Regions from separate parts of the Homo sapiens genome. Here all the other regions are reported to be linked to region 1. The links are microRNA targets in miRTarBase. Many come from high-throughput screens and were not tested one by one. Region 1 holds a microRNA gene; each other region holds the end of a gene's coding sequence.

Region 1 (5,000 bases):
TTTTTTTTTGAGACAGAGTCTTGCTCTGTCACCCAGGCTGGAGTGCAGTGGTGCGATCTTGGTTAACTGCAGCCTCTGCCTCCTGGGTTCAAGCAATTCTCCTTCCTCAGCCTCCCGAGTAGCTGGGATTACAAGCGTCCACCACCACGCCCAGCTAATTTTTGTACTTTTAGTAGAGATGGGGTTTCACCATGTTGGCCAGGCTGATCTCAAACTCCTGACCTCAGGTGATCCGCCTGCCTCGGCCTCCCAAAGTGCTGGGATTACAGGCATTAGCTGCCGCGCCAAGCCGAATGATTTCTTTTGATACATCTTCCAGTTCACTACTGTTGCAATCTGCAGTGTCTCTTTTTTTTTTTTTTTTTGAGATGGAATTTCACTCTTGTCACCCAAGCTTGAGTGCAATGAAGCCATCTCGGCTCACTGCAACCTCCACCTCCCGGGTTCAAGCAATTCTCTTGCCTCAGCCTCCTGAACGGCTGGGATAACAGGCACCCACTACCACACCGGGCTAATTTTTGTATTTTTAGTAGAGACGGGGTTTCACCATGTTGGCCAGGCTGATCTCGAACTGCTGACCTCAGGTGACCCTCCTGCCTTGGCCTCCCAAAGTGCTGGGATTACAAGTGTGATTACAGGATTACAGGCTAGGATTACACCATGCCCAGACAGTGTCTCTTATTAAACACACCTAACAGTATCCTTAATTTGATATATTAGAAATTCTCAACCCATCCCATATAGCTAGTAGTATCCTGACACCAAAACCAGACAAAGGCATTACAACTACAGACCAAACTCTGTATTAGTTTTCTACTGCTGCTATAACACATTGCCACAAACTCAGTGGCTCAGAACAGCACAATTTATTATTTTAAAATTCCAGAGGTCAGAAATCCAAAACAGGTCTTATGGGACTAAAATCAAAGGATGCATTGCTTCTGGAGGCTCTTAGGAAATAACAGTTCCTCACCTTTTCCAGCTTCCAGAGGCTACTTACGTTCCATGGCTCTTGGATGCTTCCATCATCACATCATATCCTCTATTCCTCGCTTATGCTTAGACGGCTGAGGAGATCCATGAGTTACATGCCTAATCTCTTCAAAGAGCCCTCTATGTGACTGAATACTCTGACTTTTGATGTTTCTAAGGCACTAGCAAAAGGTTGTCCAGCCTCACTCTTGGCTTATACTTTGGAGCATGCTTTTCTGATAGCAAATATCTAAATTTTAGCACCTTCTGTGATCTGGATAGGTAATTTCACAAATTGACAAGCACTGATTGCTTGTTTTTCAACAGTTCTTCTCTCAATTTATATCTTTCCTCGCACATTTCACTATAAGCAGCAAGAAAAAGACAGGTTGTACTTTCACCACTTTGTGTGGAAATCTCAGCTAAACATCCAAGTTCATTACATGTTCATTACATGTAAGTTCATTACATCCAAGTTCATTACAGCAGAAGTGCTGCTTTCTATATTTAGGACACAAATGAGTTAATAGTTCTGCTTCTATATGACAAAGATCCCTTTTCCTTCAGGTTCCGGTAACATGTTCCTCATTTCCTTCTAAACCACCTTGTCAGCACTTTAAACACCTGTATGTCTACCAAGTCTGCTTATGACAATTCAGATATTCTCTAAGACACTGTAGGTTTTCTCCCCTATGATCCTTACTTCCTTCTGGGCCCTCACTGGCAGAAGCTTTATCATCCACATTTTATCTAACAATCTATTCAAGGTAATCTAGATTTTTTTTTTAAATCATGCTACTCAAAATTATTCCATACTCTGCCAAGTACCCAATTCTAAAGTCACTTTCACATTCTTAGGTATGTATTACCAGGACCCCATTTCCAGTTACTAATCAATATAGTGAACCACACTGAATACTAAATTAGAAAAAATCATTTATGTTGAGCAATAATAATGCTGAAAATGTTGGGGTCTTTTCTGCTTCAAACTTTTGAGTAATTATGTCATTGTCTAGTAAGAAAATTTTGCTCATTCTGTGTCAATCACCTTATAACATAGTTATATCATCTTATATTTTTGAATACTAGGGAAGCAATAACATGAATAAGTATTATTGTGTGTTGCATTTTGTCCTCCCAAGATATGTTCAAGTCCTAACCCCTAGCACCTATGAAGATGACCTTATTTGGAAATGGGGCCTTTGCAGATGTAATCAAGTTAAGATGAGGAGATAATGGTTTGCAGGACCCTACATTAAATGACTGGTGTCCTTATAAGGAGAAAGAGATACAAGGACACACAGGAAAGATGGCCATATGACGACGTAGGCAGAAATTAAAGTGATTCAGCTACAAACCAATGAACAGCAAGAACTACTGGCAACCAATAGAAGCCAGGAAGAAGCAAGGAAGGAGTCTTCCCTACAGCCTGAATTCAGAGGGAGCATGGCCCTGCTGATATCTTGATTTCAGACTTACAGCCTCCTCAACTATTGAGAATAAATTTCAGTTGTTTTAAGCCAGCCCGTTTGTGGTATTTTGGTACAGCAGCTCAGGAAACTATAATAGAGTCTAGAGCTACTATACCAAAATAACCACACACACACACACACACACACACACACACACACACGACATGAAATCAAAGAGAATAATTCCCCTACTTCATTCAACAAACACAAAGTTTTGTTTTTACAACTCTCCATGCACCATACTTCCTACTGATTGATACAAGAGCATGGAAAGCACAGACATTGACAGCTTCGTAAATGAACACGGGAATAGGTCATGTTTTTAAACCACCAAAAATGGAAATGGCACCTGAAACAGGAATAAAAGGTAAACAAAAAGACATATATTGGTGGCAGTATACACTGCTATTTTACTTCTCCTATTTCCAATAATATCTCTAATAAATATCACACTTAAAGCAGCATAGAAAAGAGAATGCTAGTGTTACAACCATGAAATCAAGATAAATGCAACAGTGTAGTAAGTCTGGCAAGTGTGCTTGATCTTCAACATTTCTTCCATACCTACTGAAGGTCATGAAGCTCTGTACAGACTGACCATTGAAAGAGTTATATAATGTTCAAAAAATATAAAGCAAAGGGTATTTCTACAAAGTTAATCCAAGTACATTAAAAAACAAACATTAAAAAGAATGAAGGGCTTAGCTATGGAATGATATACTCGATTAGGAAATCTTATCTTACCTGTTGAATTACTTCTGGATATAGCATGGGTAGTCTTTCAGCAATAAGAGCCAGTCCACCCATTCCTGCAAAAACTTGTAATGGTGACTGAATTGGACAGGTTTCAAGCAAAGATTCATCCAGTATCCCATCCATGCATTCATCACCTGGAGTGAGAGCCTCATCTTCTGGACAGCTAGCAAGTAAGTCTCCATGATCTAGACAATAAATTACAAATAACTGAATAGGTAAGAAAGGGTATATTTTTATAATATTCTTTCATTTACAAAAGCAGGTATTACTGCTTTCTTGCTACTCAAAAAAGAGCACAAAACATCATTTATTTAGATATAGCTGTATTATGGCTAGACGGTACAATGACCTTTAAATGACTTCTGATACTGCCTTCTTTAGTCTTGTTATTGGAAGAATGGTTCATGGACTAGTAGTATTGGCATCACCTGCAAGCTAGTTTGAAATGAAGAATCTCCATTTTAACAGTATGATGCTGGTCATTTGTAAGCATACTGAAGTTTGAGAAGCACTGTCCTTTAGGGCATACTTTAACGTATATCCTATGTTAAAATAAATAAGTTCTCAAAGTTCTCATAGCAAATAATATGCTCTAAAGTATCCTATTAAGAAAAATTAATGACAAAGACTTCCCTTACTTAAAACAAAAAATTATACCATATTAGTTTAACTCTGAATTACTCACCAAAGAAAACCAAAAGGTCACGTAACCAGACCCTTTAAACATTAAAACAAAAGAGAGAAATAATCGTGCTGAAAAACTGGGCAAAGACAATGTACCAAAATTTGCTGAAGAATACAAAAGACCAATAACTAAAGACTGAATTTTAGTCATGAGAAAGATGGAAAGTTTAAGTAAGTTCATATCATACTCACACTATGAAAACTACTTATATAGCATTTATAGGAGTAAAAATTGGAAACAACCACAATGTTTCGATGATTGGGGAACAAATAAATTTTCTTACATTTTTATGAAAAAATAGCCAATTCAAAAATGGATATTCAAAAATATTTAATGGAATATAAGGGCCGGGTGCGGTGGCTCATGCCTATATCCCAGCACTTTGTGAGGCCGAAGCGGGCAGATAAGTTGAGGTCAGGAGTTACAGAGTAGCTTGGCCAACATGGTGAAACCTTCTCTCTACAAAAAATACAAAAATTAGCCAGGCATGGTGGTGGGTGCCAGTAATCCCAGCTTCTCGGGAGGCTGAGGCAGGAAAATCACTTGAACTCGGGAGGCGGAGGTTGCAGTGAACTAAGATCGTGCCTCTGCACTCCGACCTGGGAGACAGAAAAAGACTCTGTCTCAAAAAAAATTAATGGAATATATAAGTAAAAAACAAAAATATGTGATCCCAATTATATGAGAAAACATGTTTATATGCAAGAAATGCCACTCAATATAAATTATAACAAAGTTGTAAGTTGAGTTTCTCACTTTTATTATAAAATGACAATTCACATAGCTCTCACAGAAATATCAGAAATTAAAGTACATGCGCTCATAAAACAAATGATGTTATAAGAAATAATGCAACTTAGTTTCCAAATGAAATAATGGCCATTTTTTATATTTACAAAAATTCAGTCATAAAAAAATTATATCTTATGTTGATATAATAAAAACACAAGTCAATTAAGTCATTAGCTATAGAAATCTCTGCCTCTTTGTATGACAGTCTGTAATTTTTAAAGTAGTATTATGCACATACCTTTTTCAGGGTGTAGTCTTTTATAAGAATCTGTTTTTGATAGACTGGGGTCTGTTATAACTCTTGATCCCAATTTAACAGTCAG
Region 2 (8,196 bases), not on the chromosome of region 1:
GAGGGACGGACGGACGGAAGGAAAAAAGAAAAGAATGAGCACACATTAATTCCTGGGAGTCTTGCATTTTAAATGATTTAGAATTCTTCCATTAATTGTTCCTTATAACTGAAGTCTTCCAGGGTATCTATCATCCATGGCTCTCAAACCGTAAAAACCACTTAGTACAAGATTAATGGGGAACTTCAAGATGAATGGACAAAACTGAAATCACCGAACCAACTGATTATGATCACCAAAACTAAAACCTGAGATTTTGCACCTCTTGATGATGCAACAGTAAGCACACTGCATCTCCTATGATATATTCTTGTCTAAAAGAAAGAAAAAGAGGTCAGGTGCAGTGGCTCACGCCTGTAATCCCAGCACTCTGGGAGGCCGAAGCAGGCGGATCATTTGAAGTCCGGGGTTCGAGACCAGCCTGGCCAACATGGGGAAACCCTACCTCTACTAAAAATACAAAAGTTAGCCAGGTATATTGCTTGAACCTGCGAGGTGGAGGTTGCAGTGAGCCAAGATCACGCTCCCACAGCACTCCAGCCTTGGCGACAGAGCAAGACTCCAACACAAAGGAAAAAAAAAAAACCAGGCTGCCATGGTGGCAAGGCACCTATAATCCCAGCTACTTGGGAGGCTGAGGCAGGAGAATCACCTGGGAATCAGAGGTAATGAGCCGAGATAGCGCCACTGCACTCCAACCTGGGCAACAGGGCAAGACTCTGTCTCAAAAAAGAAAGAAAAAAAAAAAAACAGAACCTATGTATATAGGTTTATATATATGTAAAATCAACCTTCTGAATCTACCATTTTACAAAAACCACGGGGGTTAAAAATCATGTGAAACAATATCACAATGATACCAATCAGCCAAATATAGGTCATAGAATCAACCTCAGGTTTTCTTCAGTAAAGACAGGAAACTATTAGAGACTTAAGACACTTAAGAGACATTATGAAACACATGTATAGAGAGCATTTGGATCTTGATTCAAAAAAACAAATTAGAAAAAATATTTTCATCAAGTGAAGAAAAAAAAATTTTTTTGAGACGGAGTCTTGCTCTGTGGCCCAGGCTGGAGTGCAGTGGCAGGACCTCGGCTCACTGCAAGCTCCACCTCCCGGGTTCATGCGATTCTCCTGCCTCAGCCTCCCCAGTAGCTGGGACTACAGGTGCCCGCCACCACACCCGGCTAATTTTAAGTGAATAAAATTAAACACAGAGTTATGCATGCCACTAAAGAATTACTAGGCTGGACACAGTGGCTCTTGCGTGTAATTCCTGTGCTTTAGGAGGCCAAGGCAGGAGGATCACTTCAGGCCAGTAGTTTGAGAGCAGCCCAGGCAACGTAGCAAGACCTCATTTTTTTGGAGGCAGTCTCGCGCTATCCCCCAAGCTAGAGTGCAGTGACACCATCTTGGCTCACTGCAACCTCCACCTCCCGGGTTCAAGTGATTCTTCTGCCTCAGCCTCCTGAGTAGCTGGGATTACAGGCAACTGCCACCATACCCCACTAATTTTTGTATTTTTGGTAGAGATGGGGTTTCGCCATGTTGGCCAGGCTGGTGTTGAACTCCTGACCTCAGGTGATCCGTCCGCCTCAGCCTCCCAGTGCTGGGATTACAAGCGTGAGCCACGGTGCCTGGCTGCAAGACCTCATCTCTACAAAAAATTAAAAAATTAGCCGGGCTTGGTGGCACACGCCCGTAGTCCCAGCTACTATGGAGGCTGAAAGTGGGAGGATCCCTTGAGCCCAGGAGTTGAAGGCTACAGGGAGCTATGGTTGAGCCACTGCACTCCAGCCTGGGTGCCCATAGCAAGACTCTGTCCAAAAAAAAAAGGCAAAAACTTTAAGCTGAACCTAATAATTTAGCCTCCAGACCAGGAAATACAGAGATATAGAAAAACAAGTTAAACGGTACCGTAAGAAAACCAGTAAATAGAGGACATTCAAAAAAACTGTTGTAGCCTCCTAACAGTTAAGTTAGGAGAGTAAGACAAACTAAAGAAACCGATTAACCTGGCCGGGCACAGTGGCTCACGCCTGTAATCCCAGCACTTTGGGGGGCTGAGGTGGGCGGATCACTTGAGGTCAGGAGTTAGAGACCAACCTGGCCAACAGTGTGAAACCCTGTCTCTACTAAAAAAAATTAGCTGGGCTTGGTGGCAGGCACCTGTAATCTCAGCTACTCAGGAGGCTGAGGCACGAGAATTGCTTGAACCCAGGAGGCGGACGTTGCAGTGGGCCAAGATCATGCCACTGAGCTCCAGAGCAAGACTCCTTCTCAAAGTAAGAAAAAGAAACAAATTAACCTAATGCAACTCATAAATGCTGACTGGATCCTGGTTTGGAAAACGTAGCTACATAACACTTCTTAGACACAATTATGCTATTTGAATATAGTATTAGATATCAGATACTAGGGAATGTTTAGATACATTAAGTATGATAATGGTACTGTGGTAATGAGAACATCTTATAAGATGCATGATAAAGTGATGTCACGTCTATAACTTACTTTCAAACTATTGTTAACTCTAGATCGAGAACACATGGGGGGTTCATTGTACTGTTTTTTTTTTTTTTTGAGACGGAGTCTGTCTGTTCCCCAGAATGGAGCGCAATGGCGCCAATCTTGGCTCACTGCAACCTCTGCCTCCTGGTTCGAGGTATTCTCCTGCCTCAGCCTCCTGAGTAGCTGAGAATCAAGGCGTGTGACACCACACCTGGCTAATTTTTGCATTTTCAGTAGAGACAAGGGTTTCCCCATGTCAGCCAGGCTGGTCTCGAACTCCTGACCTCATGATCCACCCGTCTTGGCTTCCCAAAGTGCTGGGATCACAGGAATAAGCCACCACGCCCAGTGTGACTCCTTTTAGTTAGCCGGATTTCTCTGTAAAATACACATTTTCATGTTGCATTTGCTTTCCAGTCATCAAGGTCAATGCAAATAAATTTTATCTTATAAAGGAACACTTTGTAGTCTCCTGTGAATAGGTCCTTAATTATGTTGTTTCAAAAGGTCTCACAAAGCAACTAAAGTACTACAAATTCAGCACAAGGAATGGGTGCATGAAGCAAAGGAGTTCTAAATTTTAACCAACCCACTTTACTTTTTCCCTTCCCAACACACAAAGCTGTGATTAACGCAGGAGAAAGTATTATTAATGAGAACTAAGCTGACCTGAAGAGCCATAACAACATATCCCATTTGCTATGTTTTAGGTTTTCCTACATGAGGCCCAGAATTTGGGGGGAAATAACTCCATGTGCACACCAGCCCCCAAACCTCATTTAACAGTGATGCCTTCAAAAATAAATCTTTCCCCCAACCTAACAGTGATGCCTTCGAAAAAAAGTCTTTCCTTATGCTGTTTCATACATATGGTAGAAAATAAAATTGTCAAGATATTTATTGTGTTAACATGTGAGACATACAATTTGCTCAGTAAAAATAGCACATGAAAAAATATTATAAGCTTATATTCATAAAGAAATGGGTATGTTATTACCTCTTTTTCTTGCTTGCTCAGGACTATTAATTTGACAAGGTTGGAATGTGCACAGCACAGCTGAGACACCACCATTTTAACACTGAATCACTATACCATGAACTGACAGAACCCTGCATGAAGGATGAAAAACTCATACCCAAAGTCAAGAATCACACAGCAGCATGGAGGGGGAAAATGAACTATATGATGCTAACCGCATTTAATTTCGAAGTGGGGGGAAACAGGGCATGGGGAGTGAATAATGGTTGAAGTTCCAGGCTCTAACTGTACATCCTTAAGTAAATTAAGTTTAACTCATCTATTAAAAAGTGAGTTAAAACAGATGAGTTTTAAGGTCCATCTCAACTCTAAATGAGACACTAGCAAAAACAAGGAATCCACCACTTCAGATCCTTATGAAACCCAGGAAAAGGTGGGGCACAGTGGCTCACCTGAGGGCAACAGTTGGAGACCAGCCTGACCAACACAGTGAAACCCCATCTCTACTAAAAATAACAAAAATTAGCTGGGTGTGGTGGCGGACACCTGTAATCCCAGCTATTTGGGAGGCTGAGGCAGGAGAATTACTTGAACGGGGTGTGGGGGTGGGGGGTGGAGGTTGCAGTGAGCTGAGATTGCACCATTGCACTCTAGCCTGGGCAACAGAGCGAGACTGTCTCAAAAAAAAAAAAAAAAAAAAAAAAGGCCCAGGAAAAACACAAAAATAGCAATGGTATTAAAACTGTTCAGAATCGGCCAGACACGGTGGCTCGCACCTGTAACACTAGCACTTTGGGGGGCGGGGCAGGTGGATCACCTGAGGTCAGGAGTTGGAGACCAGCCCGACCAACATGATGAAACCCAGTCTCTACTAAAAATACAAAAAATAGGCCGGGCGCGGTGGCTCACGCCTGTGATCCCAGCACTTTGGGAGGCCAAGGCGGGCGGATCACGAGGTCAGGAGATTGAGACCATCCTGGCTAACACCGTGAAACCCCGTCTTTACTAAAAATACAAAAAAAAAAAATTAGCTGGGCGCGGTGGCGGGTACCTGTAGCCCCAGCTACTCAGGAGGCTGAGGCAGGAGAATGGCACGAACCCAGGAGGCGGAGCTTGCAGTGAGCCGAGATCGCACCACTACACTCCAGCCTGGGCAACAGAGCGACACTCTGTCTCAAAAAAAAATAAAAAAATAAAATAAAAATAAAAATACAAAAAATTAGCGGGGGGTGGTGGCGGGTGCCTGTAATCCCAGCTACTCAGGAGGCTGAGGCAGGAGAATTGCTTGAACCCGGGAGGTGGAGGTTGCAGTGAGCCAAGCCTGCACTCCAGCCTGGGCGACAAGAGTGAGACTCCGTCTCCAAAACAAAACAAAACCACCACCACCAAAAAACCTGTTCAGACTGAACACAGAACTCAAGGGCATTATTATAACAGATTACAAAGTGAATTTTCTATAGCTTTGCAAAAGTATCTAAATCCCATACATCCTTTTAACAGCAATTTTCATTATTGAAGACATGACTTAAGTACAAAAAGAAAAGTCCAAACTGTCAGCTTTCAGTCCTCCACATTCCCCTCTTTAATATGGTATTTTGCACTATATACATTAATGAAAATTTGAAACAAACAAAAAGAACTTTAGTCAAACTCCCCTTCCTCCTCCAGCTTTATTGGAATAGTTTAAAATTACATTTCTATTTTCTAGGACTTCAGTTGCTCTTTCCATCTGACTTTTAAAAACTGATTACAGCAAATGAAACACAGTTGTCTAAGTGATATAGTATACAAAAATAACATCTTGATTTCTGTGAAAATGCATTTCTCTGCAATTCCTGAATAGCTCCAAATTATGCTAACTCTGAGCATTGATGTTTACTCTGGGTTTTAGATTTAGTCTTTGAAAATAATGTGTTCTAAACCTTTGCCATCACCATCTATGTGTCCAACATCAACACTGTGATGAAGTTGTTCCTGTTTAGGCTTTTATTCCGATTTCTCTCGAACAGCCATTAACACGCATGTTTATCTTTTTGTTTACTCCCACTCAACTGTATGTTCTATGTAGGGCCTGATACAGATGTTACTTGATGTTATTTAATAGCTACTGAGGTCAGACAATCCAAGACCATCATTATACTAAAATTAAAGTTATTTATGGAAGTTCATAGACACTTCCAGAATTGGTTTTACCTCCTACATGGGAACATGTTCAAGGAACCCAGGACGGGCTTACTGGTCTGACTCAACTCTTCCCATTCATCAATCCCTATTCACCAGTGGCACGGAAAGGGGGTTCTTTAACAAAGCATTATACATAACACCTCTACCAAACTAAACATAAACTTTTTTTGTAGTTAAATGCAGAAAGTCGGTTTTTTTCCACCCCTTTCCTCCTTTTACACGGCAAGTAAAGCTCACTGGCCTGGGAGTTGCCTCTATCTGCCAACCTTTGGCCAGTGAAGAGGATTCAGAGAAAATAATACAACCATCAATCAGAAAAAGGAGGGGCGACAAAGGAAAATAATTAGGCTGTAGCCTCAATTGTGCATTCCCGTGCAAGGTGCCCTGACTCGCCACAGCGGTAACAGTTGACTTCACTTGTCTTGCTGCAGTTGATGGCTACATGACCAGTTTCACCACACCTAAAAAAGAAATTAAAAGTTTTCACAATGGGCCTCAGAAAAAAACTGTCTACCAAAGCAACAGTCACCATGCAGAACAAAACGCCTGATCTTTGTTTTCATGCAATTAACCCCTAAGGTTTCACAGATATGTACACAACAACATTTATCAAATTATACACTTACATGTCACAAACAGGCAAAGATTTCTGGTTACATGATAAAAGATTTATGTATATTACAGAGCTTTCTATGAAGTCTCTGGAAGTTTCAAATTATAACACTCTTACTTTTATATATTAAAAAAGTCCAGTTGTGAAAACTGCCCAGGTACCATAAGCCACAGGATATCAGGGCAGAATACAGAATTATATACAGATAGACTGCCAGTTACATATGCTGAAAATTGGTCTTATCTGGTCACAGCTAAGTTTCACTGAATTTACTAAGGCCCTTCCATTTATAGCTAATTCATCTCTGGAAGAATCTCTGCAATGAGTTTTCTTCTAACAACATTCTGACACCTTACCTATAGCACTTCACTTTGGTGCAGTCTTTTTGAATGTGTCCGAATTCTCCACAAGAATAGCATTTCTGCTCATCTGCATGGTCGCAGTCACGAGCCAGATGGCCTGGTTTGCCACAGTTGTAGCAGCATTGCTCTCGCTCTCTCTTGGGCTCCTTGCAGTCCTTGGCAATGTGGCCACCTCTACCGCAGTTATAGCAGGCTTCAACAATAAGGAAAAGAAACAGGCCAAGACTATAAAACCTTTACAAAGTGTTACGTTTTAAATTATACAATACAAAACCTCAAAGGTGGAAATGCTATACACAGTTGCATGTGCTCACCTCTCCAAGCTCTAGAGGGGTATGAAAAGGAAGTGTTAAATACTTACCATCCTCCTGAAGATCACAATCCTTGGCAAGATGACCAGACTCACCACAGCGATAACAAATGTCTGGAAGAGACGAGGAAACAAACTGGAAACCTGTTTTGAGCAAAAACAAAGAATTCGGCTAGTCAGACCAGTCTTGATACTAACAAATACTGAAGTACTTCAAATTTTTCTATTCGACAAAATACCTCTATCCGAGGTAAAACCACCTCTGCCACGGCTTCTCATTCCACGACCACGGCCTCCACCAGTAGGACATTCCCGGGCCCAGTGGCCAGATCGTCCACACTTGAAGCACTCATTGCTGCTCATGGCTGCAGTCAGATCTTTGAAATATTAAAAGTAACAGCATTAAACCACTGAAAGTTCTTTTAACTTTTATTCTCTATTAAATGTATTTTTGGAAAATTATTCTGGGGAAAAAAGCTAGCTAATATATTGGTTAAAAAAATAGCTGGGCATGGTGGCTCACGCCAGTAATCCCATCACTTTGGGAGGCCGAGGTGGGTGGATCATGAGATCGAGACCATCTTGGCTAACATGGTGAAACCCCGTCTCTACGAAAAATACAAAAAATTAGCCCGGTGAAGTGGCAGGCGCCTGTAATCCCAGCTACTTGGGAGGCTGAGGCAGGAGAATGGTGTGAACCCAGGAGGCGGAGCTTACAGTGAGCTGAGATGGTGCCACTGTACTCCAGCCTGGGCAACATTGAGACTCTGTCTCAAAAAAATAAAATAATCACACAACTACATGATTGGGTATTATAGACTTATTATAATATACACCTTGATAAAAGTGATGGAATTTACAGGGTTAGGGTCAATGAAAATCCATTAAGAGAAATAATTGGTAGTGGCTGGGCACGGTGGCTCATGCCTGTAATCCTAGCACTTTGGGAGGCTGAAGCGGGTGGACCATCTGAGGTCAGGAGTTTGAGACCAGTCTGGCCAACATGGCGAAACCCCGTCTCTACTAAAAATACAAAAAACAGCCGGGCATGGCGGCATGCGCCTGTAATCCCAGCTACTCAGGAGGCTGAGGCAGAAGAATCGCTTGAACCCGGGGGGTGGAGGTTGCAGTGAGCCGAGATCATACCACTGCACTCCAGCCTAGGGGACAAAGTGAGACAGACAGGCAGGCAGGCAGGCAGGCAGGCAGGCAGACAGGCAGACAGGCAGCCAGG
Region 3 (8,196 bases), not on the chromosome of region 1:
GCGCACGTGTGCTATGCCAGGCCTCCACGTTCGCCTCCCAGGCCCTCTGGCACCCAGCAGCATAACCAAAAGGGCAAAGGGAGGAGCTGAACGAGACTGCAACTTGTGGGGGGTGGGGGTGGGTGGGTATTTGTGTGGGTGCCAAAGTCCAAAAAAAAAAAAAAAAAAGAATGTCAAATCGATCGATGGACTCAGCACAAAGTTCACACTGGATTTCTGCCTGGGACTGGAGATCATCGGCCCCAACTCCCTGGCATCAACCTCCTTGCTCCGGGTGCTCAGATCCCTTCCCCCTCCCCTTGCCAATGCCAGCTTGGCAGGGGCAGGAAGTGGGAGCCTGGTGGCCCTGGCATTCCCAGCACCCAGCTCTGGCTGGACAGGGCTTCTGGTGACCTCACTTCCACCAAACCAGTTGATCCTCTAGGGCTTTGCCTTCTACCTTAATGCCGAACTGTGCCCTTTCTCTGTCCAGGAGGCTCCTCGTAGCCCCACGGACACTCCCATCAGACACTGCCACCAGGGAGAGCTGGTGGTGCAAGCTGAAGGGGTCCTGGGAGGCTCACGCCCTGCCCTACACAATGCACCACTCCACTCTCTGGGGACAGGAGGCTCAGCACAACTCCTATTTTGCCAGCTGCCCCTCTTGCAGCTGATCCAAACTGGGATCCCATGGGCAAACACCAAACATGGGCAAAAAGCAACCGGCCTGCTGGCTGTGTGGGCACCAGAGTGACCATGGCAAGGCCAGGGCAAGACCACCGGCTCACCGTGAGCTCCGCTGGCGCACACAGGGCCGTGAGCCCCAGGAGCTCTCTCTCCTCCCCATGGCCATCTTTTTCTTCTTCCAAGGTCTTTCCCCTTCCCTCCCAGATACAGTTCTAGGCGCTTACTCTTCACATTCCTGAGAATCGTAAATCCTCTGAGGTGGCAGAACCACCACTCCGAGATGCCTTGGCTCCTCCTCCCTGCCAGGCAACCCCCACACCGCCCTGAGATGGTGGGGCTTCCTCTCCCTTAGAAGTCACACAGGACTCCGGGAGGATGAAGTCCAGCAGGACTGAAGTTCAGGACACACACCGGCGGGCTGCGGAGAGGGCCTCCTCGCGCCGGGGCTCCACACAGGAGGAGTAATGCTATTCCTCTAGCTTTTGAAGTAGGAGTGGCGGGCGAAGCTGGCACCTCTGGGGCGGAGAGCCCTTTCTCCCCGGCCCATCTGCGGACTGGGGTGAACGAGGAGAGGGCACCAGGGAAGGAGCAGGATTGGGGGATTCCGAGGAACGGGAGCAGACACCCACAGACCCGAGGGAAGGGGGCTGGGTTCCCCTGCGCCGCCCTCCCAAAGGCCAGGGAACAAGAGGTGCAGGCGGCAAAGGCGCTCAAGCTCCCAGCACAGCCTGGGAAGGAGAGGAGGTCGCGGGACGCAGCCCCAGGCCTGCCTAGGATGTGTCAGGGCGCCTGGTCGGCGGGCGGAAGCGGTCTCCCCCTCGCAGCTCGAGTTTCAGAAAAACGACGGCGGGCGCGGGGCTGGACGGCCGGGGCACCTGGGTCTCTCCGGATCCTCCTCCCACTCCATGCCAGCCTGCGCGGCTTGGGCCCCGCTTACCTGCTCCGGGTGGCTCTTGTCGGCCTCGCGAGGCTCATTTTCGTTGCCAGCCCCCTGCACCTCGGCGGCGGCCGGCGGCTCGGCCTGCCCCGGCGCTTCCTGGGCGCGCAGCAGCTCCTCTCGGACCTGGACGCCGAGCTTCTGCAGCTGCTCGTCCGTCTCGGGGTCGACCACCAGCAGGCGCACGGCGTTGAGTGCGGCGCGGATGCGGCTCACCACCTGCTGGTGGGTCTCCTTCTCCACGTTTTCGCCGTTCACCTCCACCAGCCGGTCCCCCGCCAGCAGCCCCGCCTTCTCGGCCGGCGAGCCGGGCTCCACCAGCCGGATGTACTGGCCCAACTTGCCCTTCTCCCCGTGCAGGTGGAAGCCGTAGCCGTTCGGACCCTTCTCCAGGCAGCAGAGCCGGGGCAGGGGCGCCCCGGCCGCTGCGTCCGCGCTCATCTCGCCCTGCGACGGGTCAGCGGCGCGACTTGGGGTTCCGATGGGGACGGGACGGGACGGCCCAGCCCTTCTTCCCGTCCAGCGAACCGGGAGCGCAGCAGAGAAGCCCTGAGCCGCCGGACGGGCCAAGCAAGCAGGTGTCCCAGGAACCGTCGGCCGCCGCGAGCCGCGAGGAGCCGAGAGAGGACCACAGACCAATCCCCGCCCCGCGCGGCGTCTGAGCGTCCCAGAGTCCGCCCCGGCTCCTTACCCCGGGGGCGGGGCCGCGCTGAGGGTGGGGACCTCCGCGGGCCAATAGGGGGCTGCAGGCCTGGGCGCTCCGGCCGGGTGAACGGCGCCGGCCATTGGGAACGCGCGGGGCGGGGCCTGCGCTCGGCGCGGCGCCCCGCGGCGGGCGAAGACTAGCGCTCAGGAAGTGGAAGTGTTTGTTACCGAGCGGCCGGCGCTGGGGTGGCAGGGGCGGGGCTCGCCGAATTCCCGGTTCTGGGCGGGTGGGCCCGCCGGCTCCGGCCTGGTTTCCCCTACCTGTGGCGGGGAGTGAGGAAAGCCGGCCCTCGGGTAAAGGACCCTAACTTTTTTTTTTTTTTTTGAGACGGAGTCTCGCTCTGTCGCCCAGGCTGGACTGCCGTGGCGCGATCTCGGATCACTGCAACCTCCGCCTCCCGGGTTCAAGCGATTCCCCTGCCTCAGCCTCCCGAGCAGCTGGGGTTACAGGCGCGCACCACCACGCCCCGCTAATTTTTGTATTTTTAGTAGAGACGAAATTTCGCCATGTTGGCCAGGATGGTTTCAAACTCCTGACCTCAGGTGATCCGCCCTGGGATTACAGACGTGAGCCACCGCACCTGGCCAACGTTTTAACAGCCTTTAGCCAAAGCCTGGGTGCAGCTCCAGTTGAGAGGGAGCGGCTGTTGCCGGGGCAACTGCTCCCGCTCGGGGCAGCGAGGGCCGGTCAGTCTCGAGAATTAAGACGGAGGGCCTCCTCGGACCCTACAGAGTTGTTTGAATAACATTTTTCCGTTTGTGGGAACCCTAACCCTAATCCACTTTGTGCTGTCCCAGGACTCGCATAGAGGAGTGCAGGTTCTGATCCCTGCTGGGAAGGTGAGGGCTCCGCGGAGAGCCTGGGACCTCGAGGGGCAGCCCGCTGAAGACAGGCCATCTAGGGCAATAGCGTGGGCTTTGGCAGCAGCGTTTGGCTAGGGAGGTGGGGTGGGGAGAGGCAGGACAGACTCAGGTAATCAACCTCTGGGTACACGCCACAGGGAAAGGAGCCTTGGTTTTTTTTTTTTTTTTCCAACAGAAAAATGATTAGGACTGTAAAGCCTTCTAGCTCCCTCTTGCCAAAGAGAGGCTGGTCACAGAGGCGGGAGACAGTCTGTTGAGCGGGGAGCTGACCATCTGAGGACAGACACTGAGGAAGGAGGATGGAATGATTTTGGCAGTGAATGACAATTCCTTCAACAAGACCCCCCCCCCCCACTCACTTCAAAGAAACAGTGGACAGGATGTGCTTTCCAAAATACTGCAGTTTAATTCTGAAAAACTCAAATGCAAGAGGCCCAGAGCTGTCTATGGGATTGGATCTCCTGCAACCTGCCTTGGGCCCCAGAAGAGACTGGCAATGTCAGCCTCCTCCCTGCTCTGCCTGAGGGAGGCCACGGAGAACTTCCTTATCGGGCCCAAACTGGAGCCGCTGACTGCTCAGAGCAAGATTTCTGCCTTGAAAGCAAATGCAGTAGCCTCAGAAATGTGCAGCGCATACTTCTTCCTCCCCCTCTCCCCCTCCAGGCCGGCAGAGCTGCAGTAAAGATGCCTGCAGGTCATGACCTCATGTTTCCTGTCCACTTCCCATGGCAGGGATCGGAGCTTTGGGAGATATGTGACCAAGGAGGACACATGAACTTGCTACCCCTCTCTCTACCCCAGACATACCCACATGACTTTGTTTTACTCATATTGCATTGGTTTAACTCGGAAATGGGTGACCTCCCACCACCTAACCTGACTCAGTAGGAGGGGAGGTAAAGCAGTTTAGGCCCTGGTATCTGTTTGAGAAGTTAAAGGAAAGGGCATGGGTGGTCAGGGAGGAGGCAGAGCTTGGGGTCAAAGGGATACATGTCAGGGGAGGTTTGCTTAATCTTGTCTCCCACCAGCTCCAGGAGCCAGGGATTTCTCTTTTTTTTCACAACACATTCCAAACCTAGGAAAGGGATTTCTCCTTATCTGGCTCTTAACCCAGGAGGGCTAAACACTTCAGCTGCTTGAAGAAATCGCCTGTGGAGCTGCATGCCTGCCAAAGGATTGGGATAAGACACATCTAGCCTGGGCATGGTGCCTTCTGCGTGTAATCCCAGTACTTTGGGAGGCCGAGGCCGGCAGGTTGCTTGAGCTCAGGAATTCAAGACCAGCCTGGGCAACATGGCGAAACCCTGTGTCTACAAAAAATACAAAAATTAGCCAGGTGTGATGGTACACACCTATAGTCCCAGCTACTTCGGCGGCTGAGGTGGGAGGATCGCTTGAGCCCCAGGGAGTGGAGGTTGTAGTGAGCGGAGATTGCACTACTGCACCTCAGCCTGGGCGACAGAACGAGACTCCATTTCAAAAAAATAAAAACAAAACTCTTTTCCTAGTTCTGACCTGAGGTTTTTAGGTGCACAGGCAGGAAGGTAGCTAAGCCAGGGATTCAGGGGGGGGAGGGGCTCCCCCAGGATCTGAAGTCCAGAGAACAGGAGCCTGGAACCAATATTTCCAGGTGCCCCAATGTGCTTGTGTGCTGGAGAAAAGGGGCATGCCTCCAGGGGGGTGTTAGTAAGGCCAGAGATAGCCAGCTAGACCCTACTCTCTGCCCCTTGTCCTCCCCCTCCCATCTCCATATCTCTTATCTTCCCTGAGGCTTTGGTCTTCCTCACAGCACAAGGGCCCACTTATTTGGGAGATGGGGCGAAGATAAGCTCCTGGAGAGCGGGAGACAGTGAAGGCTGGGGTCACCTGAGCCTCTGTCCAGCTGAACTGAGGGTGCGATGGAGTCATTACCTGCCCTCACCCCCAAAGTGCATCTGTGTCCCCTGGGGCTGAGCTGGAGCAACACCACCTTTGTTATGCTTAGGAGGGAGGGCCGGCCCCCCAAGTCCTAGAAAGCAAAAGGGCCACTAGCTCCCAGCCTCGGTTTTTTGGGGATCCAGGCGCCTTTTTTGGTATTAAATTATGTACTATTAAAATAAAAGCTAAGTGTTTTACCCTCCCTGTGGATGCGGGGAGACCGCAGGAACTCAAGTAGGAGTTGGAGTATAGCTCCCTGCTAGGAAGCGGCTGTGCAGTGAGTCCTCCATCTTTCTCCCCATTGGCTCAGCCTCTTGGAATAAGCCAGGCCTGGGAGGGGGAAGGCTGCATCCTGTGTGCCTCCAGAGCCTCCTCTCTGCCCCCTGGGATTCACATGAAGGAGCAGCAGCTGGAGCGCTTCTTCTGGGACTCTACATAGTCTCGGATCTGGAAGCTGGGCTCATCCGCCTGATGCCCGGCCCGGTATTTCAGTTCCCTTGAAGAAGAGACAATGGGCTGGGCTGGGCTGGGCTGGGCTGGGGTGAGGAGCTGAGCCGCCCCCTCCCCTCTCCCAGTGGCCCAGTGCTCCCAGAGCAAATGGACCTCAGCCTGCAGAATGCAGGTGTGTCCAGGGGCTGGGCCAGGGGCCGGGCCCTACTGGATTCCTGGAGTGTGCCGCCCTGCCCCGCACACTTCCCTTCCCTGCCCAGCTCTCACTTGGCGATGGCCAGAAAGGCTAACTCCACATTCATGCCAGTCTTGGCGCTGGTCTCCAGGAAGGGAACACCGTACTCCTGCCCGGGAGAGAGTGTCCTCAGGGCCAGCGTCGGGTTGCCCCCACCCTTCACCCTGTCCCACAGACAATCACTTACCCTGGCCAAGGTCTCTCCGTCTTCGGAACGGATCACTCTTTCGCTGCTCATATCCGCCTGTCAAGCCCAAATGGGTCACTCTGGGGAAGGAGGCCTCCGCCCCAGCGGGCCCATATTTTGCCCCAGAAGCAGGCGTTGCCTGCCCTCTGCTGGTGGCCCAAGGGACTGCAGGCAGGTGTGATTGGCCTGGGGCCAGGGTTTCTGCCCAGTGTAGCTCCCAGCTCTGGGATCTCACCTTTGGTAAAGGGTCTTGGAATAGGACAGCAGTTGGGGCTAACCCTTTGCACTCTTAGCCCCTGACCTGGGACCCTGTTCACTCTGCTCTAATGGGGGCTGAGAACTGGGCACCCCTTGATTTCTCAGGCAACAACTTGGACTTTCCCTGGAAGGGGCAGATGGGATGGGCAGAAGCCTCCAGATATGTCTGACCCCTGAGCTGGAGGCTGCAGAGTCCTTTTCAGGAAGGATGCCTAGATAACTGTTCTTGGGTGGTTATGGGGCCGGCTAGGGCTGAGGAAGTGCAGGGCTGGGCTGACCCTGCCCCGGAGCCACTCACCTTGTTGCCTAGCAGCATGATCACCACGTCCCTCTGGGCATACTCATGAATCTCAGTGAGCCAGGCCTGTGGGAGAGGGCGTGCGAGACTGGCATTCTCTTCCTCCTGCTGCCCCTTTCTTCTTCTGCTCCGTTTGACTATCCTCAGTTACTCACTACCTTGAACACGATACCCTGTGCGTTCTCTCATCTGTACCTTTGTTCTGGCCCATCCAGGCCTGGATGGCCTTCCTTGGTGGCTCAACCCACAATGGCCCCACCCTCACCATTTTATGCTGTGCAACTATCAGTTCTATGGAAGATCCAGATGCATGGAGACCTTATCTCACAAATCAGTTGGCTGTCAGCAGTGATTTCTTGGAGTGTCCTGTTAAAGATTCTAAGACCACATAAGGGTTTCAGTGATCAAAAGTACTGTGATTGATTAGTGATGTCTGCCATGAGCATGGGGTTGGAGGTAGGAGTATGAGTGCCATGGATTTTCCTCTTTCTATATAAACGTTTTATTCTCCTAGTTTGCTTATCAGCAAACTGTCCTTGAGGTCAGGGGATTCATGAAACCTATACAATGTCGTGAACAAAATTGGTGCTTGAATTTATCAAATTTTTGTCTCTATAATAGTTTGGTTGTGAGGATACAACCACTCACTCTGTCTGACTGAGTCACTTTCTTGCAACTTGCCCTGGATGTATGTGTGGACTTTTCTGGTTGTGTTTTTCCCTTGGTCTCTGTGGATAATTATCCAGGGTGGAGTGGGGGCTGTTCTGAACACTTTGTCACGAAACACACTCGTGAATCACAGTGAGGGCTATGCAGGTGGCACAGGGTCACAACAGCCTGCTTGGCCTTCATGCCCACATGGCCACCAAATACAAAGCAGCAGATATGACTTCTGAGTCACAAGTAGGTGTTTTTCAGAAGGCAGGAGGACTCCACGCTCCACCCGCTTTCCACAGGGCAGGAAGCAACCCCAGCCTGCATAGACCTTGCCTTGGCTGCTTATGGGTGGGAGTCAGGGGAAGGGAGGACCTACCCTGATGTTGTCGAAAGAAGATTTGTTGGTGATGTCATACAGCAGAAGCAAGGCTGGAGGGGAGAGGATCACAGAGGGGACTTAGGCAGCAGCACGGATGCTACCAAGGGGCTGGGGTAGGGGTTGGAGGGTGCGAGGGACTCACCCTGAGCATCTCTGTAATAAGCATGGGTGACGCTTCGGAACCGTTCCTGCCCAGCGGTGTCCCAGATCTGGGAAGGGATGGGATGGAGAAATGGTCAGAAGGAGGCAGGTGCAAGGAATGTGCTGGGTGGAGCAGGCCTGCTTTGTTGTATGAGATATCTGTGGGAAGGTGGGGCTGTTTTCTTCTTTAGGTTCTCATGAGCCCCTGAGCATCCAATGACCTGGACAGTAGCAGTTACTGATTTCTCAAGCTCGTTCAAAATCATCTCCTCAGCCGAGCGCGGTGGCTTACACCTGTAATCCCAGCACTTTGGGAGGCCGAGGCAGGCGGATCACGAGGTCAGGAGATCCAGACCATCCTGGCTAACACAGTGAAACCCCGTCTCTACTAAAAATACAAAAAATTAGCCAGGTGTGGTGGCATGCACCTGTAGTCTCAGCTACTCAGGAGGCTGAGGCAGGAGAATCTCTTAAACCTGGGAGGCAGAGGTTGCAGTGAGCC
Region 4 (8,196 bases), not on the chromosome of region 1:
ATGAGGTAATGTATGCCTGCTCGCTGCGGCTCCAGAGCCGGGTGTCTCTGGTGGGGGTTGGGGCAGCTCCCGCCGGTTACACCTTGCCCTTCCCATATTCCTGGATTAATTGAGGACTCCATTCCCTTGGCAACCTCTGATGACTAAGGGCCGGTAAAAACCCCCTCTAGGCTGACGAGGAAGAGCTGGTAGGGGGTCAGGCTCTTCACCTGCAGCCTCCAGAGGAGATCCTTGTGTCAAACTGGGCCGTGTCCTTTCCAAGTCCTGACCCTGGCTGCCTGCAGTGGGTGGGGTGGGGTTCGAGGGGCTCGCACACAGATCCTGGCACTTGCCCTGGTGGGCTGTCACTCAGGACACTTCACGGTCTCAGCCTTCACGGAAACACCCAGAGCTGTGGTCCTTATTCTGTGCCTGTCAGGCACCACCCTGATTCTCAGGATTCTGTGCCTGTGCCGTGAGGCACTGCCCTGATTCTCAGGAGAGCCCAGAACTGTGGTCCCTATTCTGTGCCTGCGCCGTCAGGCACCGCCCTGATTCTCAGGAGAGCCCTGTTCTCCTTGTGGGGACTCTGGCTGGGTGTCGCAGACGTGCTGGCCTCTAGAGTCCCCGGGCCTGGGAGGGGTATCTGTTTGTGTGGGAGGGACTGAGTGGGATGGAGCTGGCCTGCTTTCTCCTCTTGTCTCCTTATCACTCTGCTGTCCCAGAAGTGTCCTTGGTCTTCCGTTTGCTTCTCTGAGAGATGTGCATGAAGAACTGCACAGACTTTTCATAACTTCAGTACGAGAGCCCAGGGTGTCCCTGTAGGGGACAGCAGAGAGGGGCCGACAGCCCCCCAACTGCGCAGACTTTTCATAACCTCAGTACGAGAGCCCAGGGTGTCCCTGTAGGGGATAGCAGAGAGGGGCCGACAGCCCCCCAACTGCACAGACTTTTCATAACCTCAATACGAGAGCCCGGGGTATCCCTGTAGGGGACAGCAGAGAGGGGCCGACAGCCCCCCAACTGCGCAGACTTTTCATAACCTCAGTACGAGAGCCCAGGGTGTCCCTGTAGGGGATAGCAGAGAGGGGCCGACAGCCCCCCAACTGCACAGACTTTTCATAACCTCAGTACGAGAGCCCGGGGTATCCCTGTAGGGGACAGCAGAGAGGGGCCGACAGCCCCCCAACTGCGCAGACTTTTCATAACCTCAGTACGAGAGCCCGGGGTGTCCCTGTAGGGGACAGCAGAGAGGGGCCGACAGCCCCCCAACTGCACAGACTTTTCATAACCTCAGTACGAGAGCCCGGGATGTCCCTGTAGGGTATGACAGAGAGGGGCCGACATCTCCCCAGCTGCACAGTCAAGGGGTTTCCAGTTGCCTTGTGTGACGTCTGGACCTGTCCCTGTGGTTGTTGGGCATGGCCGACCTCACTTTTGACCTGGGGAGTCTCCGGAATGACCTGGCTGTCTCACAGTTTTGCCATGAGATCTTGGGATGTTGTTAGGGACCCTTTGGAGGCTGGCCCTAACCCTGAGGCCCTTCCGAGTTAGGAGAGCAGCACAACCCTCTCCTCTTGACACCGACACTCTTCCCTCTCTCTTTAAAGGAACTCTGCGACCTTCAAGTCGTTTGAGGACCGAGTTGGGACCATAAAGGTAATTGTACCTGGACTGTTTGATGGTCTTGGCAAGGTGTGACCTGTTACAGCAACTTGTTTATTATTAGTCATTTAGTTATGGTAGACTCACATACAGTTGTGGGAAGTAATGCAGAGAGGTTCCTTGTGCCTTTTACACAGTTCTCTCCTGTGACGACATCTTGGAAAATCCTGTAGTGCAGCCTCCCCACCAGGACATTGGCACTGACTCAGGACACAGAACGCCTCCACACTGCCCTTCCTGGTCCCCACTGCCCTTCCTGGTCCCCACTGCCCTTCCTGGTACCTTCTTGGCCATGCTGACCTTCCTCCCGCCCTACCCCCGGCAACCCCTAGTCCACTCTCCCTTTGTATAATTGTGTCATTTCAAGAATGTCACGTAAATGGAACGATACAGTGTGCAGCTTTTTGGCATTCACTGTCTTCATTTGGCATCGTTCTCTGGAGACCTGTTGGGGCTGGTGCCCGTCCGTGATTTGCTCCCTGTCCCTGCTGAGCAGTGTTCGTGTTACATAAGCTTTTGTAGAGCATTGAGCATGGGCCTGGGATCTGCCTTGTGTTGTGTGCTCTGTCTCAGGTTTTTCTGTCTTCATCTTTTCTCTCCTGTAGTCTAAGGTTGTGGGTGACAGAGAGAACGGCAGTGACAACCTCCCTTCCTCAGCGGGGAGTGGTGACAAGCCCCTGTCGGATCCCGCACCTTTCTAAGCCTGTGGTTGCTTCACCCGCTGCAGAGCACACGCAACCCAGCCTCAGCATCACAGCCGCAGCTCTGTTCAGCGGAGCAGCCAGCCAGGGCGGATGAGCAGAGCCGGCCCTGAGGACAGTCCTGCCCATCCACGCGGAGATGTGGCTGCCGCGTTTGCATGAATTTGAAGAACACAGGCTTGTACACAGATGTTTTACACTCACGTTTGTAGATGAAACAGATCACTGTGCTGTCCTTCCTAGGGGTGCAGGAAGTGGACAGGGCGGAGGGTTTGAAAGAATATTGAGCCAAAGCCCAGGCTCCCTTTGGGAATCATGTTAGCCCATCAGAATGTTGAAGGATTGAAGAGTTCTAAGCATAAAATAAGTGGCATTTTCTGACTTCTTCCTCCTCCTCCTTCCCTGACTCACAGAAGGAATGCAATCACCCAGCAAGTCCTACCTGTTACGCAATTTTTTATCTCAAAATGCCGAACGAGAAAACTGTCCATTTTCTGAGACCCCCAGAAAGGAAACTGACCCTCAGCAGCTGCCTGATTGTTACGCGAATCTAGCTTTAACGGAAGCAAATTCATTATTTTTTAAATGCAGTGGACTTTTCAAAAAGTTTAAATTAGGCAAAGCAGCTTTAGCCTCATAGAATATTATTTCTTTGGACTCAAGCTGAAATACAAGCCTTACATTGCCTTATGCTTTATTTCTTTCTAATTTTTATATGTATATAGATGAGGGTTCCTTAATGGTTGTGAGCATTGTGTGGAATTTTACACCTGGCCTGCGTGGCAGCCTCTTCCAGTTGAGGTGTTTTATGTCACGCACACTCCATCCCAGTGTACAAAACCTGCTTCTCTTCTCAACCGTGGCAGCTCCCGCTGGCTCCTATGCCCTGCCCTAAAGGGCTCTTGAGCCTCTGGGAATGGGAGGGGCCAAGAGAAGGAAAACCCTGTCTTTAGCACCCTTTAAAAGAACTGTGCCCCCCTTCTCAGTGCTGCCTTTGCATGGGCCTGGCCCGGCTCACATTCGTCAGTGACTCCAACCCTCCTGCTTGCTGTACTTGGGATGAAACGACCCCACAGGTCAGGTGGAGGGTGGGGCGTGGGCATCAGCCAGGATTGCCGTTACAGTCTTTTTCTCAGGAGCTACAAAGATCTCTTCCTGTTACTAAATAGTCGCACCCCAGCAGCCTCTCTCGCACACCGGGGCCCTGCATGTCAGATGGCGTGGTCTGCAGGGGGAGCTCTGTGCCTTAGTGGCTCTTGGCAGGACACTGAGGGCCTGCCTGTGGTGTGCCCGGCTCTGCCACTCCCGGGAGGGGAAGGGCTGCTCAGCTCAAGGTGTCCTGTTCGGTAGAGCAAGTGTCCTCTGACAGCCGTGTCCCCGGACAGTTCAGACACCCTTGGGGATGGCACTCCACACACGACAGAGATGCAGGGGCCAGGGAAGCCCAGCGCTCGGTGCCCTTCGTCCAGGGTTAAAATCGGCCTGTGGGGTGTGGTGAGAAGGCAGGTTGTGCGGGTGTTGACCGATGTATCTTTTCCTTAAAGTTATTATAATAATGGGTAATTTGTCAATAAAGCATTCCTTTGGGGGAAAGTCCGCCTCGGCTTGTGTGATGTATCGTTCGGGACCATGATAAGAGTGGTAAATGAACTGGCACACGGTACCTGCCCTAATGAGTCCGCACCCTTGGGAGAGGCAGGCAGGGGACAGTGCTAAAGACAAAGGGCAGGTCCTCAATGCTGGGACAAGGGGAGCCAGCTGTGAGGGGAGAATGGTATATGGCCAACCTGTGAGGTCAGACCCAGCGTCTTGGGAAGAGGAGTTGAAACTGAGCCCCAGGAGGCGGAGGAGGAGCTCACCAGGCTCCAGGTTGGGCCGGGAGCTCCAGAGGCTTCGCCAGCTGCCCCTGCAAGCACTGAGCTGCTGCTGAGCACACCTGTAGTCCCCGCCATTCTGGAGGGTGAGGCAGATCACCTGAGCCCAGGAGTTCAGGACCAGCCTGGGCAGCATACCGGGATTCCATCTCAACTAAAAACAGTAGGCTGGGTGTGGTGGCTCATGTCTGTAAGCTCAGGACTTTGGAAGGCCAAGATGGGAGGATCACTTGAGCCTGGGAGTTTGACACCAGCTTGAGCATCGTAGCCAGGCCCTGACTCTACAAAAAAGTGAAATAATTAGCCGAGTGTGGTGGTTCACACCTGTAATCCCAGCTGCTCAGGAGGCTGAGGTAGGAGAATCATTTGAACCCGGGAGGTGGAGGTTGCAGTTAGCCGAGATCACGCCATTGCACTCCGGCCTGGGCGATAAAGCGAGACTCTGTCTCAAAAAAAAAAAAAAAAAAGAAAAAGAAAAAGGAAAAGACCCTTGAGGGGGAACCTCCACTCTGCCCCTGGTCTGGCGCTTTGCATGTATCCATTCCTAGTCTTTGGAGTTCCCACTGGAAAACTAGTGGGAGCACCAGTCTTCCTTTGGAGGTCAGAGGTAGCTGGGCTCACCCCAGATGTAAGAGCAGGGAAAGTTAGGTGACCTCGAATTGTATGGTACATAAGCCCCAATACAGCAGGGAGCTGGTACCAATAAAGGGTGAAATGCACTATTGCCGCCTGCAGTCAAGATTTACACTAATTTATTTTGGAATGAGTTCATGTGTTCTTCATTTATTGAACAGATACTGTAACTGCCCTGCGGGTAAGAGTCTGCTAGGTTTTGTGGGGTACAAGGGTGAATCTGATGTGGACCCAGTGCTCAAGGACTTTGCAACCCGTTTGTTGGGGAAGACAGATTCCCCTAAGTCACTGGCTTGTGTTTGACGAGGTGAAGCGCTTGGAGAGCTTCGAGGATGGAGCAAGTGGAGTAAGTGGACCTGAGGAGCGGGCAGCAATGCCTGAAGGCTCAGTCCCCTCTTCTCAGAGTGAGGGTAATGGTATCTGCCTCATCATATTGAAAGGCTTAACCTTATAAAGCACTTAGCACAGGGCCTGATGTATCAGAGGTAAACATCAGACTCTTCCCAACTGTAGCCACTGTCAACTTTCCTGTCTTCTTTTTTTTTTTTGAGACAGGGTCTCACTCTGTCGCTCAGGCTGGAGTGCAGTGGTGCAATCTCAGCTCACTGCAACCTCCACCTCCTGGGCTCAAGCGATGCTCCTGCCTCAGCCTCGCGAGCAGATGGGATTTACAGGGGCATGCCACCACGCCCAGCTAATTTTTGTATTTTTAGTAGAGACAGGGTTTTGCCATGTTGGCCAGGCTGGTCTTGAACGCCTGACCTCAGGTGATCCGCCCACCCCGGCCTCCCAAAGTGCTGGGATTACAGGTGTGAGCCACTGTGCCCGGGCGTACCTTCCTGTCTTATTTTCTCCAAGCAGGCTGGAATGTTCATGGATAGATATATGTGTGATAATATACTTTTTACATATCATGCATCGTGCTCATTTTAGTTTCAGGAGTTCTTTGCTCCTGTGTAGCCTTTCTACACATTATCTTTCTTTTTTTCTTCTTTTTAAATAAGAGATGGGGTCTTGCTCTGTCACCCAGGCAGGAATGCAGTGGCACAATCATGGCTCACTACAGCCTTGACTTCCCACCCGATCCAGCCTCCTGAGTAGCTGGGACTACAGGGGCATGCATGCCACTGTGGCCGGGCCAATTAAAAAAATTTTTTTTTATAGAGATGGTGGTCTCACTATGTTGTCCAGGCAGGTCTCAAACTCCTGGGCTCCAGTGATCTTCCTGCCTTGGTCTACCAAAGTGCTGAGATTCCAGGCGTGAGCCATGGGTCCCGTTGTATACATTTCAGTAACTATATTATTCCATTTGAGTGCTCACTTGTGCAGTTGGGCAGGTTTCCATTCTCGCTATTAAAAATAGTGCCTTCATGAATATTTCAGTGCATATACCTTTTTCTGTATTTAGGAATATTTTCTTTGGAAGAATGTCCCTAAAGTGGAACTGCTAGGTCTCAGAGGGACTCACTTAAGGCTGGTTCATTCATTCTTGCAGCTCCCAGCACAAGTGGAATATAGCTTCAATCTGAGATCGGTACCAGGCCCATTTCATTCTCTCATCCCTCCAATTCTGGCCTGAAATATTTCATTCTCTTGGAATCTATAGTTGTAGATATGAACCTGGCCTTTCTGCTTCTTGGGTTCCATAGGCCTTTTCTTGCTGCCTGCTTGATGTTGCGCAGCTTAATGACTGCTAGGAGGCTTCCCAAGCTCTGACACTTCCAGGCTGTGAGACTGGAACAAGCTTGGCAATTCAAGACCGGCATTATGGCAGTGAGTTATGAGGGCAGAGGAAGGAGGCCAGAGCGTGTTGAGAGAGAATTTGGGTTTCACGCAGTGTGTCACGGGAAGCCTTGGATGCTACTGGGTTTGTTTTAAAAAGATGACCGCACTGAACTCAGGTAAACGGGCAAGGGTGGAAGCGAGGAGGCAGGAGCACCGGCCGCAGAGGTCTGGGAGCTTCTAGGATGGGAAGTGGCCCAGGCAGCCTACGCGGGGCAGGCCGTCAGTGAGTGGCGGAGCGCCTGCAGTTACAGGGACAGGGAAGGGTGGCCGACGGGATGGGCAAGGGCAGAGGGAGGTGGAGTGGACGTTCGTGGTCCTGCCTCTCCACGCTGCTGTTTGGAGATGATTCCGGGAGGGTGGGAGGGCGCTGGCGACGGCATTTCAGTGGTTGGACAGGAAGGAAGGAAGGACGTCCCATCTCGGCGCTCCAGGGTTGAGCAAATGTCAGTCCCAGGACGGTGGCTCCGGGTGGGGGCGGGGGCGACGGTCCGCAGCCGTCTCCCACCAGCTCCCTGTTCAGTTCTTTGATGAGAACGATTACGTTTTCTCAGTCTTACTTAAAGCGCTGAGTAAACTCACCTGCAAGACCAGCAAGCCCTGCGCTTCTCTTTCTGCGCGGTTCCCCGCAGCACATGGCGTGTCCACCCGGGACCCACCTGCGGCCACCTGAAGACTGGGAGGACTGGCTCCGCCCCCGCGCTTCGTCCCCGCCCACTCATGGGCGGAGCCTCCACAGGGCGCCTCGGCCCCGGGCTGTCACTCGGGACTCCGCCCCTTCATGGACGGAGCCTCCGCTCGGCTCTCTGAGCGCATGCGCAGCCGGTCCCACCCGCGGCTCCGACACGCCGGAGCCCACGTCCTTCCGGGAGCGCGCGCGCCGGTGCGGGTGCGTGCGTGAGCGTGCTCGTCTCCGCTGCCGCTGCCGCTGCCGCTGCCGGTGCCGCACCCGCGCCCTCTGCCGCCGCCGCCGCCGCCGCCCGGGGTCTCCAGGCTGAGGAGTGCGTCGGCCGCTGCCCAGCAGCGCCGCGAATCGGGGAGCGGAGCCGCGGAGCCGGCGGGAGGGCGGGCGGGCGGGCGGACGGGCAGGTGAGCTCGCTGCGGGTCGGGCGGGCGGATCGGCCCACGTCAGGCCCGGGCAGGCGGGCGGGCGGGCGCGGGTGGGGGGCGGGGGCGGCACTCCAGAGCCGGAAATGGCGGCGACCCCCGGGCCGGGGCTGCGCGGGCGCTCGGGGCCGGAGCTGCTGCGACGCCGCGGCCTGGGCCGGGGCGGGGGCGCGGGAAGGTCGGCGCCGGGGCCTGCGGGAGCCGGGCCGGGCCGGGCCGGGGGTCTGAGCACCGTGGTGGGGGCTGGGGCGGCGCTCTCCGCGGGTCTCTTCGGGCCCGGACGCCCCCTCCGCTCCCCCAGGTCCCCGCGGCCGCCCCCAACCCCCCGGGGTCTCCTCTCCTGCGGGGGGACTGGAGAAGCTGGGCCATCGCTGGTCTTAGGGAGGCAGATAATTTAGTCCCTGGGTCGTTGTGTTTATAGCTCGGGGAATTGAAAATTGTTCTGTAACGCATCG

What was found. Region 1 holds the annotated microRNA hsa-miR-558 (UGAGCUGCUGUACCAAAAU, at 2,509-2,527, opposite strand). A microRNA usually pairs through its seed, bases 2 to 8, with sites in the 3' UTR of a target mRNA and lowers its output. Matches are read on the target gene's strand: a 7mer-m8 pairs with bases 2 to 8, a 7mer-A1 pairs with bases 2 to 7 and ends in A, and an 8mer does both.
Region 2: the mRNA of CNBP is a reported target of hsa-miR-558. Seed matches in the 3' UTR shown: 7mer-A1 at 4,119-4,125.
Region 3: miRTarBase lists RAB37 as a target of hsa-miR-558. Seed matches in the 3' UTR shown: 7mer-A1 at 5,123-5,129, 7mer-m8 at 4,327-4,333 and 7mer-m8 at 3,843-3,849.
Region 4: miRTarBase lists TPD52L2 as a target of hsa-miR-558. Seed matches in the 3' UTR shown: 7mer-m8 at 2,404-2,410, 7mer-m8 at 3,208-3,214 and 7mer-A1 at 3,671-3,677.

Annotation. Positions count from the first base shown.
Region 1 is chr2:32,529,740-32,534,739 of GRCh38, reverse strand. It overlaps MIR558 (microRNA 558), which reads right to left and starts at 2,587; the gene lies at 2,494-2,587. It overlaps BIRC6 (baculoviral IAP repeat containing 6), which reads right to left. Exons shown (of 74, transcript NM_016252.4): 60 at 4,916-5,000; 61 at 3,189-3,385.
Region 2 is chr3:129,164,433-129,172,628 of GRCh38, forward strand. CNBP (CCHC-type zinc finger nucleic acid binding protein) reads right to left here. Exons shown (of 5, transcript NM_003418.5): 2 at 7,202-7,339; 3 at 7,014-7,106; 4 at 6,647-6,845; 5 at 3,395-6,138. The coding sequence starts at 7,325. The coding sequence ends at 6,021. Among named protein-coding and RNA genes, the nearest start is that of ISY1-RAB43, 7.5 kb to the left of the region's middle.
Region 3 is chr17:74,742,695-74,750,890 of GRCh38, reverse strand. RAB37 (RAB37, member RAS oncogene family) reads right to left here. Exons shown (of 9, transcript NM_001006638.3): 4 at 7,696-7,762; 5 at 7,551-7,603; 6 at 6,518-6,583; 7 at 5,962-6,018; 8 at 5,807-5,883; 9 at 3,556-5,585. The coding sequence ends at 5,480. It overlaps NHERF1 (NHERF family PDZ scaffold protein 1), which reads right to left and starts at 2,263. Exons shown (of 6, transcript NM_004252.5): 1 at 1,604-2,263. The coding sequence starts at 2,044. SLC9A3R1-AS1 (SLC9A3R1 antisense RNA 1) reads left to right here and starts at 1,024. Exons shown (of 3, transcript NR_187307.1): 1 at 1,024-1,828; 2 at 1,964-2,318; 3 at 3,348-5,291. MIR3615 (microRNA 3615) reads right to left here and starts at 2,278; the gene lies at 2,192-2,278. RefSeq lists enhancers at 1,200-1,825, 3,114-3,709, 8,190-8,196 and a silencer at 2,030-2,719.
Region 4 is chr20:63,887,601-63,895,796 of GRCh38, forward strand. TPD52L2 (TPD52 like 2) reads left to right here. Exons shown (of 7, transcript NM_003288.4): 6 at 1,590-1,638; 7 at 2,250-3,938. The coding sequence ends at 2,345. DNAJC5 (DnaJ heat shock protein family (Hsp40) member C5) reads left to right here and starts at 7,526. Exons shown (of 5, transcript NM_025219.3): 1 at 7,526-7,723. RefSeq lists enhancers at 6,739-6,908, 6,841-7,368, a cis regulatory region at 6,824 and a silencer at 7,368-7,607.